Regions from separate parts of the Homo sapiens genome. Here regions 1 and 2 are each reported to be linked to region 3. The links are microRNA targets in miRTarBase. Many come from high-throughput screens and were not tested one by one. Region 3 holds a microRNA gene; each other region holds the end of a gene's coding sequence.
Evidence for each region. Region 3 holds the annotated microRNA hsa-miR-154-5p (UAGGUUAUCCGUGUUGCCUUCG, at 1,798-1,819, shown strand). A microRNA usually pairs through its seed, bases 2 to 8, with sites in the 3' UTR of a target mRNA and lowers its output. Matches are read on the target gene's strand: a 7mer-m8 pairs with bases 2 to 8, a 7mer-A1 pairs with bases 2 to 7 and ends in A, and an 8mer does both.

Region 1 (3,361 bases), not on the chromosome of region 3:
AAACTCTGCTGGTCCTAACATAGTAATGCTATCTCACAGATAATCTAATGATATTCTATCCTGACTTCAAAGTTACAAATTCACTGTGGTGGACCCATCTAGAAAGGATGGTTCTACAAAGTTACATAATGAGAATCAAACGAACTTTTGGTGATAGTTTTTTTCCTGGGATTAAAACCACTGCATGGTATCCCGAAATCACAAACGCTAATTCTTCAGATTTGAACTTTGAAATTTAAAAGTACAACAAACTAAATAATGTGGACTCTACACCAGAAATAAAAAAGTCATGATAAACAGATGAAAACAAGTTAAAAAAGTCCAATGCTCTGAATATGTGTTTTTGTTTTTAAACATGAGTCGATTTTTTAAAAACTTCAAAGAAATATTTCAGAGACAAACTTTATATACAACTTTTATATATAGTTTTCCTTTTTGAATTATCTCTGTCATACATAAACTATTGCAGATTGTGCTTAGGGAAAAATACAACTGAAATAAACTTCATTGCTCCTTTCTAGTTGTTGCACAAATAAACAATGTCCAAGACTCTAAGATTTCTTTGCTTTCCAGTACATACATAATACTGTTAAAAGCTGAATATAATGCACTAAAGGTCAACACAAGTTTTACTTGCTAAATACAAATAGAGAATATATGTTTATCCTTGAAGGACACTTGTTATGAATATGCTACAACTAAATAATAAGATGTTCCTTAGCTGCTGGTTTTCATATCATTCTTAATCATTTGTGGGGTACTGAGATCAGTAAGACTAGGGAGAGTCTCTATCTTACATTCAACACAATGAATGTTTATGGGTCTTCACAAGGCAAATGGCACTGTATTAGGCAGTAGAAATGGCACCTGAAAAGGCAAACACGATAGATTCAGACCTTCTCTACAGATTTGTTACAAACCGGTTTTTGGTACGTTCCTCATAATACATGTCAAAGCTGAAATTTACCATAAAAGGTACGAATAATTCCAAAGGTAAGAAAACTGATTTTGCCTTTGGTCTCCAAATAGATTGGAATATTTTTATTCCAATTGAGCACCTCAAAAACATCCAGTTACTGTTGATCACAAGGAAGTTAAAGTGGGGGAATTTAACAGGGCACTATGTTTCACTGGTGACAGCAGAGAAAGCTTGCAATGACACGCTGCAATATTCTATAATGTTGGGGGTACGACAGGGTACACAGAATACCTAAAACATTTATATTAAGGATATCCGAAACAACATATTTAAAACCCAGAAAAATGTTATGAACACTGTTTCTGCCTAATACGTGACCAATGTTTTTGTTTTTTTTTTTAATCTTAACATGGTATTCTCTCCTACTCTCTCACCCTCCCCCCCAAAAAAGGCCACAAAGTGCTTTCACGAAGCGTCATTCTTTTAGATAAAGCCATTGCACAAAATGTACAGTTCAGGTATACTGAAATGAGTACCACACCGGCGTCCAATTGCGGCAGTTTTTATACACCAGTATGGCATAGGCGAAGTCTTTTAACAGAATTACAGCAAACACCTTTATAAGGGCCATACAAATAACACATTTAAAGTATTAAAAGGTACAGCTGACTCAATAGCAGAATTTAAAAGCTACATCCTATTAGCACATTTAACCCAAATGAACTTGAATCTTTCTATGATTTACCACGCAGGAAACTAGGACAGAATAAATTTCTTGTCAAAAGCAGTTTGTTCATTTACACAAAACTATAAGTCAATTAATGTCACTACCTGCTAAAGCAGACAGCAAGGGGGCCCTTGTCTATAATATTTATACTGTCCCAAATATTGTCACCTTAAAATGGCAAAACTTTAAATTACTATTTTCTTTACAAAATAAATGTAATCTATTATATATAGACCTGGAAAAAACTCAAAAGTTCAAATTCTTAATGTGAAAGCAAGTAGGTAAAGATTCAAAAGTGAAAAAATCTTTTACACTTTATGTAAATGATACTTAAGTATGACAAAGAGGTGATAATTCAAGTTCGTAACTAGTAAGTCACTAAAAAGATAAATGCATTCATTCATGTACCACAAAATCAGAGAAGACACGAGGACATGCCGCAGTCAGTGAAAAAGCCGAGAAATCAACATTTTACTAGTTATTTTGTCCCAAACTATTACCATGTGTGTTTGGTATGTTAACAATTTAAATATCCACATTAGGCTAAACAACAAGCACCTGTCAGCAGTGGAAACCAAAACATTTTGATGCTAAAAAATATACAAGATATTTAGACGCTATTTCATTGGTTGTCAAAAACAGTGACTACTGCCAAATAATTAAATTTAAAATATTGTGCCAGGTCCTCTCAGGGAAATGTGAAAATAATACTGACGATCTCATTGTCATTGCTGTTATTTTACTGGAATTAAACAAAGGCCAGAAGTTATAAATTTATGACTGCCAATACTATCTTTGGATAGTTACAATACAGTATGTAAAATTAAGGATGGCTTTGTTTAGAAGACTGCCATAAATCAACAAAACCCAACTGTGTCTGGGGGACATGGTAGAGAAAATGGCAATTTTGAGAGAGGAGTGCTTCTAAAGGCATTTCCTTGGAGGCTCTGAGGTTTTTTTTTTTTTTCACATTACCGAAAGGCCAAGTAATGTGGTGTGATTACTATAATTCCTACAACAAAACTTCCACTTAGAATAGTTACATGTTCCCAAACTATTTTTCTTCTGTCTGCCATGCTGGCTTCTGTATCCCATGGTCCACTGTAATCTTTTGGTCTTCTTTTTTTGCAGTACAGCAGTCCTCGTGCTGCTATCCATTGAGTAGGTAAACCACCAATTCATAGGTGGCCATCATAATGGCTGTGTTTGGAATCTGTCTCACTAGATGAGTTGTCAGACCACGATAAAGAGACCCATAACCTTCTTCTTGAACAAGCAAAGATAGAGTCTGAAAAAAAGATCTGTATTTTGTTCCCTCTTCACGTAGTCTTGTTCTTACAACTTCTGTGTAGGAAAGAAATAAAATTAAACATTACTGATATCTTTACACTCTTCTAATTATAACTGAGCACATCCCATTTATCAGTCTGTAAGTGTAAGCTCAGGATAAAAAAGGATGGCTTCTAATGTGTAGCTTATTGAAACCAGTCACATTATAGTAACATCAAACTTCTAATATGGCCAAAATCATGTACATTAATTATAGACTTTATAGTCTTTGAATGTAAAAAGACACAATATAACAAGAGAGAAGTATCAGTTGTATGCTAGATAAACAGATAAAAGGAAGAATAGAAATGAGAAGGAGGAAAAGGTGAAGAGGCAGTAAAGAGGTGGCATCCAGGATGAATATAAAAAGGATACAGTGAGAAACA
Region 2 (3,000 bases), not on the chromosome of region 3:
TTATAAATCTGAAATGTTCACGTATTAACTGCCCTGTCACATTGCCTGAAAAGCTCTTTACTGTGCTTTTATCCAGCCATGTTTTGTTTTGTTTTCTAAATTTTCCCCCAAGGTCTGTGTACACTGGGCTCAGTAAGTTGTTATGTTGCTGGAATTGAACTACTCCACCAGAAACTAGAGCTCCCTGACAATGTATCCGGTGAATTTGGATGGTCCTTCTGCCTGGCTTGTGTCTCTGCTCCCTTACAGTTCATGGCTTCTGCTCTCTTCATCTGGGCTGCTCACACCAACCGGAAAGAGTACACCTTAATGAAGGCATATCGTGTGGCATGAGCAAGAAACTGCCTGCTTTACAATTGCCATTTTTATTTTTTTAAAATAATACTGATATTTTCCCCACCTCTCAATTGTTTTTAATTTTTATTTGTGGATATACCATTTTATTATGAAAATCTATTTTATTTATACACATTCACCACTAAATACACACTTAATACCACTAAAATTTATGTGGTTTACTTTAAGCGATGCCATCTTTCAAATAAACTAATCTAGGTCTAGACAGAAAGAAATGGATAGAGACTTGACACAAATTTATGAAAGAAAATTGGGAGTAGGAATGTGACCGAAAACAAGTTGTGCTAATGTCTGTTAGACTTTTCAGTAAAACTAAAGTAACTGTATCTGTTCAACTAAAAACTCTATATTAGTTTCTTTGGGAAACCTCTCATCGTCAAAACTTTATGTTCACTTTGCTGTTGTAGATAGCCAGTCAACCAGCAGTATTAGTGCTGTTTTCAAAGATTTAAGCTCTATAAAATTGGGAAATTATCTAAGATCATTTTCCCTAAGCATTGACACATAGCTTCATCTGAGGTGAGATATGGCAGCTGTTTGTATCTGCACTGTGTCTGTCTACAAAAAGTGAAAAATACAGTGTTTACTTGAAATTTTAACTTTGTAACTGCAAGAATTCCAGTTCAGCCGGGCGAGGATTAGTATTATTTTTAACTCTCCGTAAGATTTTCAGTACCACCAAATTGTTTTGGATTTTTTTTCTTTCCTCTTCACATACCAGGGTTATTAAAAGTGTGCTTTCTTTTTACATTATATTACAGTTACAAGGTAAAATTCCTCAACTGCTATTTATTTATTCCAGCCCAGTACTATAAAGAACGTTTCACCATAATGACCCTCCAGAGCTGGGAAACCTACCACAAGATCTAAAGTTCTGGCTGTCCATTAACCTCCAACTATGGTCTTTATTTCTTGTGGTAATATGATGTGCCTTTCCTTGCCTAAATCCCTTCCTGGTGTGTATCAACATTATTTAATGTCTTCTAATTCAGTCATTTTTTTATAAGTATGTCTATAAACATTGAACTTTAAAAAACTTATTTATTTATTCCACTACTGTAGCAATTGACAGATTAAAAAAATGTAACTTCATAATTTCTTACCATAACCTCAATGTCTTTTTTAAAAAATAAAATTAAAAATGAAAAGAGACTCAATTGTATATAGAGTGTCTGAATTGATTTAAATCTCAACACTTTAGGATAAAGAAGTGGAGGCAATCTCTGTGGTTGTCTGTGCAAAGTGCATCTTGCTGTACAGGGCTGTCGTTACATCCTGTGTTTGGGTCTCTTGTTTGATCTTCTGGGAAATGTAGGAACCCCTTCCCCCTATTAGAAATAAGAAAATCTTTATCTTTTATTTTTCAGAATTTTAAACCATGTTCTCAAAAGTAGTTTTGTTATCTCTACATGTCATACTTAATGTGGCTAGTTTTCAGTAAAGTCATTTAGTGGCTGTGGATGTTTGTGTTCTATAGTAAATAACCAAGTCAGCTTCTGACTTAGAACAAAGTCAGCATTACTCTGTAGCCAATTATTGCCTGTGAAATGACTGGTTACTCAGGTTTCTATCTAATCTTAATTCTTGAAGATTCATTACCCTTCAGCGCCTTCTGTGGAAGGTGGAAAAGAGAAAAGCTAAATGAACAAACAAAACACCTTTGGGAATGGGATAAGAAAATTTTTGGCAGCATGACATTTTTGTATTGGTCAGTTATTTTAAACAATGTCCCTGCCTCTTAATACCCCAGAGTTACATGGGAAGCTACTAGCACCATAACCCCTGGTGCTGCATTGTAGTTGGTATTTTTAGCATGTTGCAGGGTAGCTGAGGTTATCTTTCCTGCAAAGACTTTTTTTCTTTGGAATATATAGGGCTGTATTGTTCATTTAAATGTGAAACTGATTCTAATCAGGTTGAACCATATGAAACTGCAGATATTCAGCCATTTTTGATCAACCTAATAGATAAAATCAGTGGCAAGGCGAACCCTATTTAATCTTTGAAAGCAACCCCCAAAGTAAAAAATTAATTTTCAGATTTTTCAGAATGAATTTTTTTTTCTTTTGGGGTGGAGTTTCACTCTTGTTGCCCAGGCTGAGTGCAATGGTGCGATCTTGGCTCATCACAACCTTTGCCTCCTGGGTTCAAGCGATTCTCCTACCTCAGCCTCCCGAGTAGCTGGGATTACAGTCATGCACCACCATGCCCAGCTAATTTTGTATTTTTAGTAGAGATGGGGTTTCCCCATGTCGGCCAGGCTGGCCTTGAACTCTCGACCTCAGGCGATCCGCCCGCCTCGGCCTCTCAAAGTGCTGGGATTACAGGCATGGGCCACCATACCCGGCCTCAGAATGAATTTTGTGGCAGTTTAACAAATGTGTTTTAAGACTTTGATTTTATAGCTCCTAACTAAATGATGTGGGTAAATATCCTCTATGATTTTTAGCAAAAGACTCATTTCAAAATTTATTAAGTATAGCCATAAAACACAATTTGGCACAACAACAACAACAACAAAAAAGGAATTCTAGAATTTATTCAGATAACAGTGTGCCTTCTGTCTGCATCATATTACACTAGGATTTCAAATTTATAATCTAATGGGAATGTGTTAAAATTTTACCTGCTGTAGTTGTGTGT
Region 3 (3,361 bases):
TTGTGTTGTGAGGTTATCATCAGTTGAGCACTTAGGTGTTTCTGTTTTGTTTCAATCCCTATGCACATGAGTTTGCATTTGGTTCTGCCTGGTACCCCAAGGAATTTACCAGTTGGTACCAGTTTTTCAACTCATTTTGTTGGCTTAAGGATTCCCAGACATATGGCTGGCAGAAGTCCTCACCATATCTTTGTCCTGAACCTTTGGTATCTCACAGGAGACCTCATTCTATCCACTCCCTAAAAATGACAAATTCTCTTATCCCTGGCCATTATAAAATTTTCTGGTTCCCCTTTCCATTCCCAGATCAACTTCTCCTGGATGCACGGTCATGTCTTTTCATCCTGCTTGTACTTGAACTTGACTGTAGACCCTTGGAGCCTCTAGCCAGCACAGCATCCCTTAGATCCCTTAGTGGCAGGTTGCATGAACTAATTCTTTTCATTAACACCTGAGGGTTTTGCCTTTCAGCTGTATGTTTATTTGGGAATTGATTTTGCCTGCTGTTGCATTTTATCCAACACTTCTCAATGTTTGTGGAGGAGAGGGTTCCCTATCAGTGCTTGTTGCTGGGATGGAGCCTTTGAGCTGAATGATGGGTGAACTTGGCATGACATTCTTGGCTCCCAGTTTCTTCCCTCTGAACTTTGTAAACTTGCCTCCATTGCTTTCTGGTGTTAAACCATTGCTGTGGACAAGCCTGGGGACAGCTGCTTTCCCTTGGATGGATGAACTTTTTTTTTTTCCTGCTTAGATTTCCTGATTCTTTCTTTAGTCTTGAACGTTGGTGACTTTACCGGGTTATGACTCAGTCACTATTTTTATTCATTAGTTTTTCTGAATCATAATATGCCTTCTTGATGAGTAGATTTAATCGTTCCTTTGTTTCAAGGATTTATTCATTTTATGAGCACTTTTCTACTCCAGGTGTTGGTTTTTTCTTTGGTGAAATAATCTGTTTTGTTCATTTCATTGTGTACTGGAGGAGAAGAAAGTCTGTCATCTGGCCCCTTGCTGCCATCTGTCTGCACGTCAGTCTGTTGTCATTTGCACTGTGCATTTGTCTATTTAAAACAATCCTACCCAGATGCCCCCTCCTCAGTGTCACCTTCCACCCTGGCAGGATGCCTTATGGCAATGCCACTTCTGAGATGGTCGTGGGAGTCAGCACCACTGGCCAGGTATGTGAATTTTCTGCTAACAATGGAAGAGTTTGAAAAACCATATATGAAGTACCATTAACCCCAAGCATGCAATCTATCCTTAGGAAGACTTCCTGGAAATTATGCTCACCTTTGGGGATGAGGCCATGATTCTGAGGTCAGTGCCATGCCATGGTCTAATAAAGTTTGCATTCAATGCTGTTTGTTTCTGTATGATCAATATTGTAAAGTCAGTCTCTTTGTCATGGACTCAGCTTTGGAGGGTTCCTGGACACAAGGCCTGTGTAAGGAAAGGATCATTACTGTCAGCCTCGATGCTAATGTGAGATGAGGGAATGTGCCCTGCTCTGATCCAAATGCTGAGTTTCTGTGCACTTGGCCTCTCCACCATCAGGTTCCCTGGCAGTGCTCCTTTAGACATGCACCCACCTTGGCAAAGGCATTGAGGTCTGGATGGCTGCAGGGTCCGGGATGGAATGGTTGAATACAGGGCGTGTGCTTTCTTCTCAACCCTCTTGCAGTCCGTCTGCTAACCGTCAATGTTCACTGTCTCCTAGGGGGACTTCCTGGAGGAGGCCAACTTTGGAGAACAGGCATTGACATTGGGTCTGCGCTAGCGTGTGGTACTTGAAGATAGGTTATCCGTGTTGCCTTCGCTTTATTTGTGACGAATCATACACGGTTGACCTATTTTTCAGTACCAAATCCCGCCTTGGAGGGCTTCCTGGAGCGGAGTCTTACTTCAGGGTGTCAGCTCCTCTCCAGGGTAAGGAAGGGGACCATTGACCATAGCCGACCCAGCAGTGTGCCCTGGCCCTAACCCTGTGTGTGCCCCGTCCTTGGGGAGGTTTCTAGAGATGGTGCCACCTTTGGGGAAGAAGTGGAGCTTTTCCTATCAGAGCTACTCTGTGGTACTGGTGGAGAGGTCTTCCATGATGCATTCGATTTATTTTTTGACCAATCCTACATAGTGGACTCTTTTGAAAGCATTAAATCTAGCCTTAAAGCACCCTCGGGTGGTGCCGAGTTTAGGAACTAGAACTGGTGTCTGAATGCCTGAACGCACGGCGAAGCTGACAGTGTGCACACTCTTCTTGGTGGGTCGTGCACCTGCAGGCGTCCTGCTTGCTTACCATGGCAGTTTCCTCGAAAGAGGCGGCAGTTCCCTCATCGGCTCACTGCATGTTTGACAAGACACCGTCTTGCTGTCTTCCCTGCTGCCCTCTCTTCATGTATCACAGATGGTGCTCTGCAGACCTCTCTGCTGTGGCACTTCCCTCCCTGAATGGCTTCCTGCAAGAGGTGCTAATTGCAAGTAAGGGATGGAGTGCGGCCCGGACCGCAGAGCTTATTTCGTGGGTGGTGTGTTGCCACCTTCCTGACTCTCAGTATCCCGTCCGTCCTCAGGCCTGCTGCTGGGACGCGCTGGAAGCGAGCACCCAAGTCAGGTACTCGAATGGAGGTTGTCCATGGTGTGTTCATTTTATTTATGATGAGTATTACATGGCCAATCTCCTTTCGGTACTCAATTCTTCTTGGGAAACGTCACGAGGGGAAAGCCCAGCCGGCACCTGCGCAGGGTAAGGAAGTGGATCACCTCCGCATGACAGGTGCTCTCTGTGTGACTTACATCACTTGGCTCATATCCCGGCCATCATTAGGAGGAATTCCCCGAAATGATGCTGACGTTTTAGTTGACATGGTGGTCTTCTAGTCGCATCCTTGAAGACTCGTCAGTGAATAAACCACATTTAGTCAACCTTTTTAGGTGTGAAATCATCTTGGCTGTGTGGCACACTTTAGGGAAAGGAACTCCTGGCTGAATGGAAGACATCCACATTACGCCCTCAAATACCTTATCTTCTGGGTGACCTCTGGGAAGCAAGGGGTGAAGGGGGTTTCCTCAGCAGTGAGAATTAATGTTGTTTAAAGACACATTTCCATGGCACGACTCGGTTATTCCTACTGCAAGACGAGAATTGTTAATAGCATTTATTACTACCTTATGTTGCCAGCTGTGTGCCCTTGGAAAATCCCTTCACCTATCAGCTCTCTGGGCCTCAGTCTCTTCCTCTGTAAAGCAGGGTTAACAGCGGAGTGGAAACGTGCTCTTTGTGAAGTGTCTAGACAGCGTCTGGCACGTGGCTGTAGGATAAGCATTGTTTCTGAGGATGGTCATTATATGAATGTTATGTCAT

Region 1: miRTarBase lists SLC25A36 as a target of hsa-miR-154-5p. The part of its 3' UTR that is shown has no 7-base or 8-base seed match.
Region 2: miRTarBase lists CLDND1 as a target of hsa-miR-154-5p. Seed matches in the 3' UTR shown: 7mer-m8 at 1,462-1,468.

The regions. Positions count from the first base shown.
Region 1 is chr3:140,975,889-140,979,249 of GRCh38, reverse strand. SLC25A36 (solute carrier family 25 member 36) reads right to left here. Exons shown (of 7, transcript NM_001104647.3): 7 at 1-2,990. The coding sequence ends at 2,797. Among named protein-coding and RNA genes, the nearest start is that of SLC25A36, 36 kb to the right of the region's middle.
Region 2 is chr3:98,513,992-98,516,991 of GRCh38, reverse strand. It overlaps CLDND1 (claudin domain containing 1), which reads left to right. Exons shown (of 5, transcript NM_001040181.2): 5 at 113-1,509. The coding sequence ends at 333. Among named protein-coding and RNA genes, the nearest start is that of CLDND1-AS1, 7.1 kb to the left of the region's middle.
Region 3 is chr14:101,057,972-101,061,332 of GRCh38, forward strand. It overlaps MIR154 (microRNA 154), which reads left to right and starts at 1,784; the gene lies at 1,784-1,867. It overlaps MIR496 (microRNA 496), which reads left to right and starts at 2,602; the gene lies at 2,602-2,703.